2 linked regions of the Homo sapiens genome follow. The protein of the gene in region 2 purifies or fractionates together with the protein of the main gene of each other region. This does not show direct contact. Each region holds a gene or a part of one and is shown on either strand. Other genes may lie near its edges.

Region 1 (4,608 bases), on a different chromosome or scaffold from region 2:
ATCCTCTCATTACATAGCAATAATGATTATTTAGTAAATACATATGAAAGGCCATGTACTCCATAGCACTCCTCCTGAGTTGGAAATCCCCCTCCTAATGCTTCCATTTGAATAATTTAGTTGCTGATACACCAAATCAAATATAGCTGTGACAGGTATCCCACTAATGCTTTTTTTGGAGGCTAAGATCAGACCCTTTCTCAGCCTGTTCCCCTCGGTGATTGCCTGGCGAAATTCAGGGTAAGGGCTGGGGACAGAGAGGATGCTGGAGGAAATCCAGAGCCTTAATCAATGTTAACCCTTTATAAATCTTAAAGGTACTCAGATGGCTTGTCTGATTTGAAAATTATTAATGACACTGGGGAGAAGTAAGGAAAGGCTATTTTATAACTAGTCAAATATTCTGGAACAAGAGAGAGAGTTTGAAATAGACATGTAGAAGAGAAAGATGTAAAATATGGCCTTGTGAGATGCCACCCACTTCATATCTGGACATATGACTGATATAAACCTTTACAAGTCACTTGAGAATTTTCACTCCTAGATGCAGAATGGAATAATAGAAGTCCCACTAGAGGAGTTGGGGTGACCCCAGGGCACATTTTCTTGTCTGCCAGGTACACAACACATCTCACTGATGTATCACAGAGACAAATTTCTTAATAGGGTAGCCAAGCCCCACACAGAATGATTTCGGATAAGAGTCCCATTCCTTCCCTATGAGGAGAAAATTGGAAGCCAGACTGGGATTTGGAACAGAGTCCAGGGTGAGGGCAGAACTAGGGTTGTTTTCTCCTATCCAGAATCAGGTCTGGCTTAAAGGGAGGGGATTGACAGGGCTGAAGGAAGAGGCAGGAAACATGTCTCTCCACCCCAGTGCTGCTTAAATGTGGCTGCTCAAAGGGGCAATATCCTGCTCTCCTCTTCTGATGACTTCATGGGAAGTTGGCCGAGTCCCCACTTCTGCAGAAGAATGCAGGCAGAAGGGAGCACTACAAATGGGCTTTTCCTTGGGTGCTTAAGTGGCAGGTGTGAAGGGAAATGGGGTGGGTGCCTTCAATGGGAGGAGCCACTGAACTGGGGAATACTGCTGGTCCAGGGGCTTTCCCCTTTCCCTCCCAGCTTCCTCCCAACCCCAATTCCCTGCATCAACAAAGACAGTGCTCAAAAACCAGAACTCGTCCTAACACACTCAGGCACAGGTGTCCACAAGCCCAACCTCTTTCACCTCAACACCCTGAAATCCCGTTTGCTCTTAAAAGCACAGACAGGCCCAAGTAGACTGAGAGGTCTGAGCCAGCACATCCTTGCTACTGGGAATTAAAAAACACCGTGATGTAAAGAAAGTGGTATTTGTGACACTGTAGTGCTTTAACAAGAAAATTGGGGGGGTAGAGGAGGGTGTGTCAGCAGGTTTCAAAGCATCACAATCAGTCCTGATGTGTTTGGGTAAGGCATGGAGGACATATCTCTGATCCCTGCTGGTACTCTCCAGTCCCGCATCCTCCCGCAGTCTCTTGAAAGTGGTTAGATACCCGGGCAGGGCCCCGCGTCCATTTTGCCAGCCAGGAACCACCGAGTCTGGGAACTTTGAAAGCCAGGGGATGGGGGTGGTTGTTGCCAAGGCTCGGATTTCGGCGCCAGAGTTCTCAGCCAGGAAAGCAGTTGAAAATCAACACCCATCTGCCTCTTCTTTCTCATCCCCCACCACTTTTTCCTTCACCCTTCTAGGACTGCACACAGATCCTAACCACCCCCCCCCGCAAAACACACACATTCACACACCCTTGGGCTGAGAAGATTTTTGATTCTGAAGGCGGCAAACCCGCAGAACTCAAAGGGTCTCGCCACCCCTCTCTCTGCCCCGCGGCTATATACAATAAAACCCCATACACCCCAGACATCACAACATAATCCAAATCAGCCAGTGACTTCGGCGCGTCCCGTACCTGATATGCAGACGATGAAATTGGCTTGAAGAAGAAAAAGCACCTCCCAGACTATTTCCATCCTCTGATTCTCATTCCAAGTGCATCACTCGACGGGAAAACGGGGGGAAGGGGGGAGCCCGACACGGCACACACACATACACACTCGCACACACTTCCGAGCGAGTGCACACTCGCACTCCCACCCGACAGCCGGCCAGGGACAGTCACCCCCAAGATCAATATCGCAGTTTGAATTGTTCCGGCAAATCTCCCCTCGGGCTCGACGGATGTGCGCCCCAGATGTGCTGACACATGTCCGATGCCTCGCTGCCTTGGAGGTCTCCCCGCTCGCGTGTCTCTTCTCTTCGCACCAGCGGCGGAAACCGCACTAGCAGCGGCGGCGGCGGCGGCGGCGGCAGCAGCCACCTGAAGCCACCAACACTGGGCTCTTCCAGCAAAAACGAGACCCCGATTCGTCTGGCGCCCCAAGAAGACATAGACGATAGCCCCCCGCCGGGCTGCGCCGTGCAATTCCGGGCTCCCGGGAGCGCGTAGCTCGCTGGCTAAGCCCAGGCAGTCCGCGGCAAGTTGCCCTCGAAGTCCGCCCCCCTCACCGGGGCATGGTCGGAGGGTGGCTGCTGCGCTCCGGGGCAGTTCTTCTCCTGCTTCCGGGGGGCGGGGAAGGAGCAGACACAGCAGACACACAGAGAAAGAGAGGCAGGGATTATTGCCCGAAACCGCCAGCCGCCGGCAGCCTCCGCCGACCCTCCCTGCTCCCCAGGTCCGCGCGCAGCCTGCAGCCTCTCAGCCGGGTTCCGGCAGTGCGTCCAGGGCGCCGAGGGGAAGGGCTGGGCCCCGGGGACTGGGGCGCGGTGGGGGCACACAGACTCTCCAGGTCGCGCGCGCCCTTCCTGCTCCTCTGCTATTTTCCTGAACTCCCCAGAACCCCCAGTTGCCTGGCTTCCATCGCCCGCAACTAGCGCCGCTGTCGAGATTTTCCGCAATACAACTGCAGGGGTCGTTATTTCCTCGCCTACGGATCCCTACGCTTCCCAACTCAGAGAGGAGGAGGACAGGTGGGGGCGGGAGGGGGAGGAGGAGAAGGAGGCTTGGCCAGGTGAGCGTCCTCGCCGCCGCCGGGCGTCCCAGCGTCAGCTCCGCAGCCCGGCACCCGGGGGCGGAGGCAGGAGGCCCGGGCGGGGAGGTGAGGCTGAGCGCGGCCATGAGGAGGAGGAGGAGGAGGCTGGGTGTCACAGCTTCAGGCCACCTTGGCCGCCGCCTCGGCCCCAGTCCCTGGCAGCCGCCTCCGCACTCCGCCCCGCCCTGGCTGCCTCTGTTACCCTCCAGGATTTTCGAGTTTCTCTTCTTAAAAAGAACTTCGTGCTGCGGGTTCGGCGCGGGAGACCCAGGCAGGACTCATCCTGGGAGTGCTGTGCTGTGCTCTCCCTCCGCTGCGAAATATTGGAGATTTTTTTGCATAATTCATTCCCTGCCCTCTCCATTTCGTCCCTCTCATGCCCCCCACCCTTTACCCCTTTCCGTGCCAGTGCCAGAACACTACTTACCCCAGAGTTCTTTTCTCTGCAGGTTCCTAGACCAGGTGCAACTCTTGCCTGCAAGTCCCTGCCTCCCTCCTCCCGAAAAGGGGGAACACCGCCTTTCCAAGTCCGGGTGCCAGCAGCGGCTGCTGCCAACTGCGCCTTCGCCCAACTCCAGGAGGATCCGGGACTATTGGAAACCCGGGCTTTAGAGGAACGGGCTTCCCTTCTTGTCTTTCTTTTATTCTGCTTTTCTTTAGGGAAGCTCTAGTGCTTTGGAGGCTTTTGCTGGGCTCCAGGATACTTTCCGCCAACGACACTCAGCAGCTTCCACTGAAGGAGATTTCCCCACCAAACCCGCGCGCGCACACACACACACACCCAGCGCGCGGCTCTCCAGGGCCCCAGGGGAAAGTAGGGGCGGCGCGAGCACCACCCACCCACCCAGGCCGAGGCCAGGGGCAGCCAGTCCGCAGAAGGTCTCGTGGGGAGGCGGGCTGTCTATAACCTAGGAAAGACTTGCACCCGGTTGCAGTGTGGATGCAGGGGAATTGAAGAAAACCCTGTGCTCAGAACTGCTTGCCTAAGAGGGCTGGGAACGAAAGGGGAAAGACAAAATCTCAACAGATTTGTCTGCTTCCATCGCTGCAGTGGTGGTTTGCGAAAGCTCAAACCTACCTCTTTGGGGTTATTGAAGAAGAGGAGGGAGCGTAGAGGGAATCCCTGGGAAGATCCAGGATTTCTCGGCGCGCTTGTCCCGATTGGGAACTGTGACGTTAGGAGATTTTGCACAAGCGCGGATGAACACACACATAACAAACACAAACACACACATACCCCGCGGGGATTTTTTATCCACTTTTAATATTTGATGTTTAGAAGCTATTTCAGTATAAACCTCGGTCTAAGAACTGCACAAAGGGTAGATAAGTGGAGATGGAGGAGGGGAAGGAAAGGGTGCCCGTTCATCCGCACAGAGTCAATCTAGTGAATCTTCCCGTGTTGATCCCAGCACCCAGGCTGTGCGACATCTGAGGGTGCGGAGTGGGAGCTAAAGGAGTTACATTACAGTGCTCCCAGGGTTCTTGAAGGGACTCCAACTGCCCAGGAGTCTGGCGGGTCTTTTTGCTGAGTGGCGG
Region 2 (3,810 bases):
AAGCTCTAGGCTCTATGCCACAGCCCTGCCTGCCATCAAGAACCAGAGTAAAACCTTCTACACTCTATCTCCATGACCTCAATGATTTTAACCTTTAGCTCCCACAAATAAGTGAGAACATGTGAAGTTTGTCTTTCTGTGCCTGGCTTATTTCACTTAGCATAAGGACCTCCACTTCCATCCATGTTGTAGAAGGATGGTTACCAGAGGATGGGAAGAGTAGTGGGGGTGGGAAATGGTGGTGGAGGGGGGAAGTGGGCATGGTTAATGGGTACACAAAATACTTAGAAAGAAGACCTAGTATTCCCTAGCACAACAGGGTGACTATAGTCAAAATAATTTAATTGCACATTTTAAAATAACTAAAAGAGTATAATTGGATTGTACATAACACAAAGGATAAATGCTTGAGGTGAGGTGATGAACACCCCATTTATCCTGATGTGATTATTATATATTACATGCCTGTATCAAAATATATCATATAATCCATAAATATATACACTTACTATGTACCCACAAAAATTTACTAAAACAAATCAGAGTAAGAAAAGTGGATGGAACTCTCTATAATAAATTCCATGCTTGGTCTTGGCCAAGCATTATATAGTGCCTTAGACCAACAGTGGTATCCCTGAGGAATGGCATTCTCAATGTCTCCCGGATATTCTGAAACCTAAGGAGAAAACTGCTCAAGAAAGGAATCAGGAGACAGGTGAAGGAAACTCAGAGACACTCTCCATTACCTGCGTCCTCACTGACAGTGAAAGCCGTGTTGCCCAGGGACACAGTCGAGGCATCGTTGGGACCACTAATGAGCACCTTGGCTGTCGCCACCCTTCCAATGCGGGCATTGTCAGAGGCATCTGCCAAGGCAATCTCAAACTCTTCTTCCTCTTCATACTCGCTGTCATCAATAAGCATGACATCACAGGTGGACATGGTCACACCAGGCCCGAATATCACACGACTCGCGGCAGACATCCCTCTAGATTTAAAATCAGAGCCTGATTCTAGAGCATAGAGGCTACTTCCCATAGCTGACTTAGGGACTGTGTAGCAAATTGCAGATACAATGCTGCTTGCATCTCCTGAAATACAAATGGCAAAAAACCAAAGCATTTGAATGAGTGCTTCTCAGATTTTAAAACCTCTGGTAAGTTAATGAGCTTGGTCCCTCCCAAACAGTCCATCACTATTTCTGTTCAAACTCTGACATAAAACCTTCCTGAATTGCAGTTTCTTTGAGCCTGTGGTATAAACCACTTGAGGATTTAATATACCCCAGATACTTCATCAAACAACTCAAAATGGATTTCCTATTCTGTGAATTTTGTGCTCTGTTAATTTGCAAGACTCATTGCCCACCATCTAAGACCACAGCAGGTGGAAAGATATGACACATATTTGGTACTTTAAGTAGGAAAGTAATTGTGTCCTGAAGGTAGTGCTATAAGCACAGTTCACTGCCTTTCTGAATAAACTTCTATACTTTAATTCCCAGAAAGAAACAGGCTTATTTAAAAAGAGAAAGACAAAACAAAATAAAATCTGCCACTGTATACAAATGACTTTACTTATTAGGGCTGCCACTTCCCTTGGTGACAGCCTGTTCTGGGCCTGGCTTGGTGGCCCAGAGCAATCAATGAGGCTTGCTTGTTTTCCAAGTGGCATTACCAAGGGTTTTTGCTATCTACAGTATTTGTTACACTAATACCCAGTCAGCAGATTCAAGAAAGAAACCCAAAATCATCATTTACAGTCTTGTTGTGCCTTTGAATGGGGGTTCAATTTCCATGTGTTTTAAAGTCTCAATCTTGCACAATCAAAATTCCATATGATGTTTATTTTTATTTCCAACTCCTCAAGAATTGCCCTTTTATCAACATGCACAATTACTATGTATCAGTCAAAAATAAAACAAAAAAAGAATTGCCCTTTATTTCTTACACATAGTTTATTTCTCATCTGAGCTCTACATATGACTGTCACATAGGGAAATTTTCAGCATATTTCTGTCTTCCAAGAATAAGATGGAAAGCCAGTCCTTATGAACTGTAACTTCCCTCCTTGACCAAGGTTACTAAATATTTTATGGATTGGGTGATTGATTAAGAATACTGATTCATGAATAATTTAGAAGGCTAAATATAACCAGTCTTCTAGTCCAATTTAAGAGTAAATGGGAGCTCTAACAACTTGAACTAAGAAAAGAGGCTTTCTGATGGTAGTCACTATGGATAGAATCATCATCAGGGTTGTTGTGGGAACCAAATGAGTTAATAAGTGGAAAGTACACATGTGAGTTAAGATAATGCATGAGATGAGTGCTTAGCACATAATAGGAACTCAATAAATGTTAGCAATTATTATAGCTCTTTGTCACCTGTGGAACCAACAGACCTTTTCTTTCAATAGGTGCAAACAGAAAACCAGCGCTCTCGTTAACCCAGTAGATCTTCTTGTCAAACTCTAATGTGGGTTCATCCTCGGTATCGTTGATAATGACCTTCGCCTGGGTGAATTCCCCTAACAGGGCATAAGCTGGCATGCTGAGCTCCACAGTGAAACTCTCAACATTTTCAAACACGTCATCATCGTTGATGACAATGGTGCAGGACTTGGTGTCCTCTCGCTCATCAAACTGGACCTGTCACAAAGGAACCAACAAGAAGTTAAGCTGTGCCTCAGCTTCCCCTGCTCTGCTTCCCCAGGGCATCATAGGAAAAGAGCATCCAAGTCCAGTGGGCAGAGCACTGACTGAAATAGCTGGTTCTCCCAGCCCTGGTTCCCTGCTGCATCACCTGGAACACCCAGCCACCTCTTCCCATTCTTAACCTGTACAGGAGGGCTGCTTTATTGTATAAGGACATGAAGGAGCAAAATCTCTCCTACCATTGGTGACTGGAGAAAAACATGTAGTAACTCTTTATAGCCTGTCTTATTATCTCACTTGGGGCAGCAACAGTCATCATTTGATGACTCAGTTCCCTTTCTGGAAGAACTCTGGCCTTGGAGTATGAAGTTCTGTTCTCAGATCTGGTTCTGTTACTTCCAAGCTGTATTAGGTTATGAAGCTTTACAAACATCAGATTCCTCATCAACTAAAGAAAAGTCATAATATTCCTACCTCATACGCTTCTTGGGAGGACTAAAGGAGGTCTTGTATATGAAGGTGTTAAGTGTATTTTAAAGTACCAAACAAACATAAGATATTATCATTAGTATCACCATATTACTTACACAATTAAAATTGACATAGAATTCCAGTGTACTGAATAATGGAATTTAAATTCATAGAAAATTACATTATAAACAAGGTAGACTAATTTTAACTTGATATTTTGACTACACCCTTTGCCATTAAAATGTGAATCAATTTAGCCCAGTACAAAACAGAGAAATTATTTTATATGTACACAATTGTGAACTTATAGGGACTTATTCTGGTTTTACTTTGTTTTTTTTTTTTTTTAAAAAGAAAGAAATTAAAAATCTTCAAGTGAAACCACGACTATGGACTTGCCCAAAACTGAAACTGCAGGAAATGAGCCTGGACTATACTTTGTGTAAACGGAGATAACTGAAATATGTACAAAAAACAGACATAAATGTCTGGGGACACACAAATCTGCAAAAATTTTACTCAAACAGAAAATTATTAGTATATATCTAATCAACTAATAACACTTTTATTAAGCTTCATATTTTAAAACACTCCCAGTGAAATGAAACACTCAACAGATCTTTATGTAAGATCTAGAATACACTGACAGTCTTCTGTCTTTCCCTGAAAAACACAAGAATATC

Evidence for each region.
Region 1: the proteins of FRAS1 (region 2) and CA10 purify together in Homo sapiens (co-immunoprecipitation; one large-scale study listed by IntAct). This does not show direct contact.

What each region holds. Positions count from the first base shown.
Region 1 is NC_000017.11:52,155,777-52,160,384, forward strand, and holds the start of CA10 (carbonic anhydrase-related protein 10 precursor), read right to left. Parts: upstream 2,939-4,608; 5' UTR 2,011-2,938; coding exon 1,950-2,010; intron 1-1,949. UniProt on the Homo sapiens protein: Does not have a catalytic activity.
Region 2 is NC_000004.12:78,476,655-78,480,464, reverse strand, and holds part of FRAS1 (extracellular matrix organizing protein FRAS1 isoform 1 precursor), read right to left. Parts: intron 2,651-3,810; coding exon 2,404-2,650; intron 1,092-2,403; coding exon 747-1,091; intron 1-746. UniProt on the Homo sapiens protein: Involved in extracellular matrix organization. Required for the regulation of epidermal-basement membrane adhesion responsible for proper organogenesis during embryonic development. Involved in brain organization and function.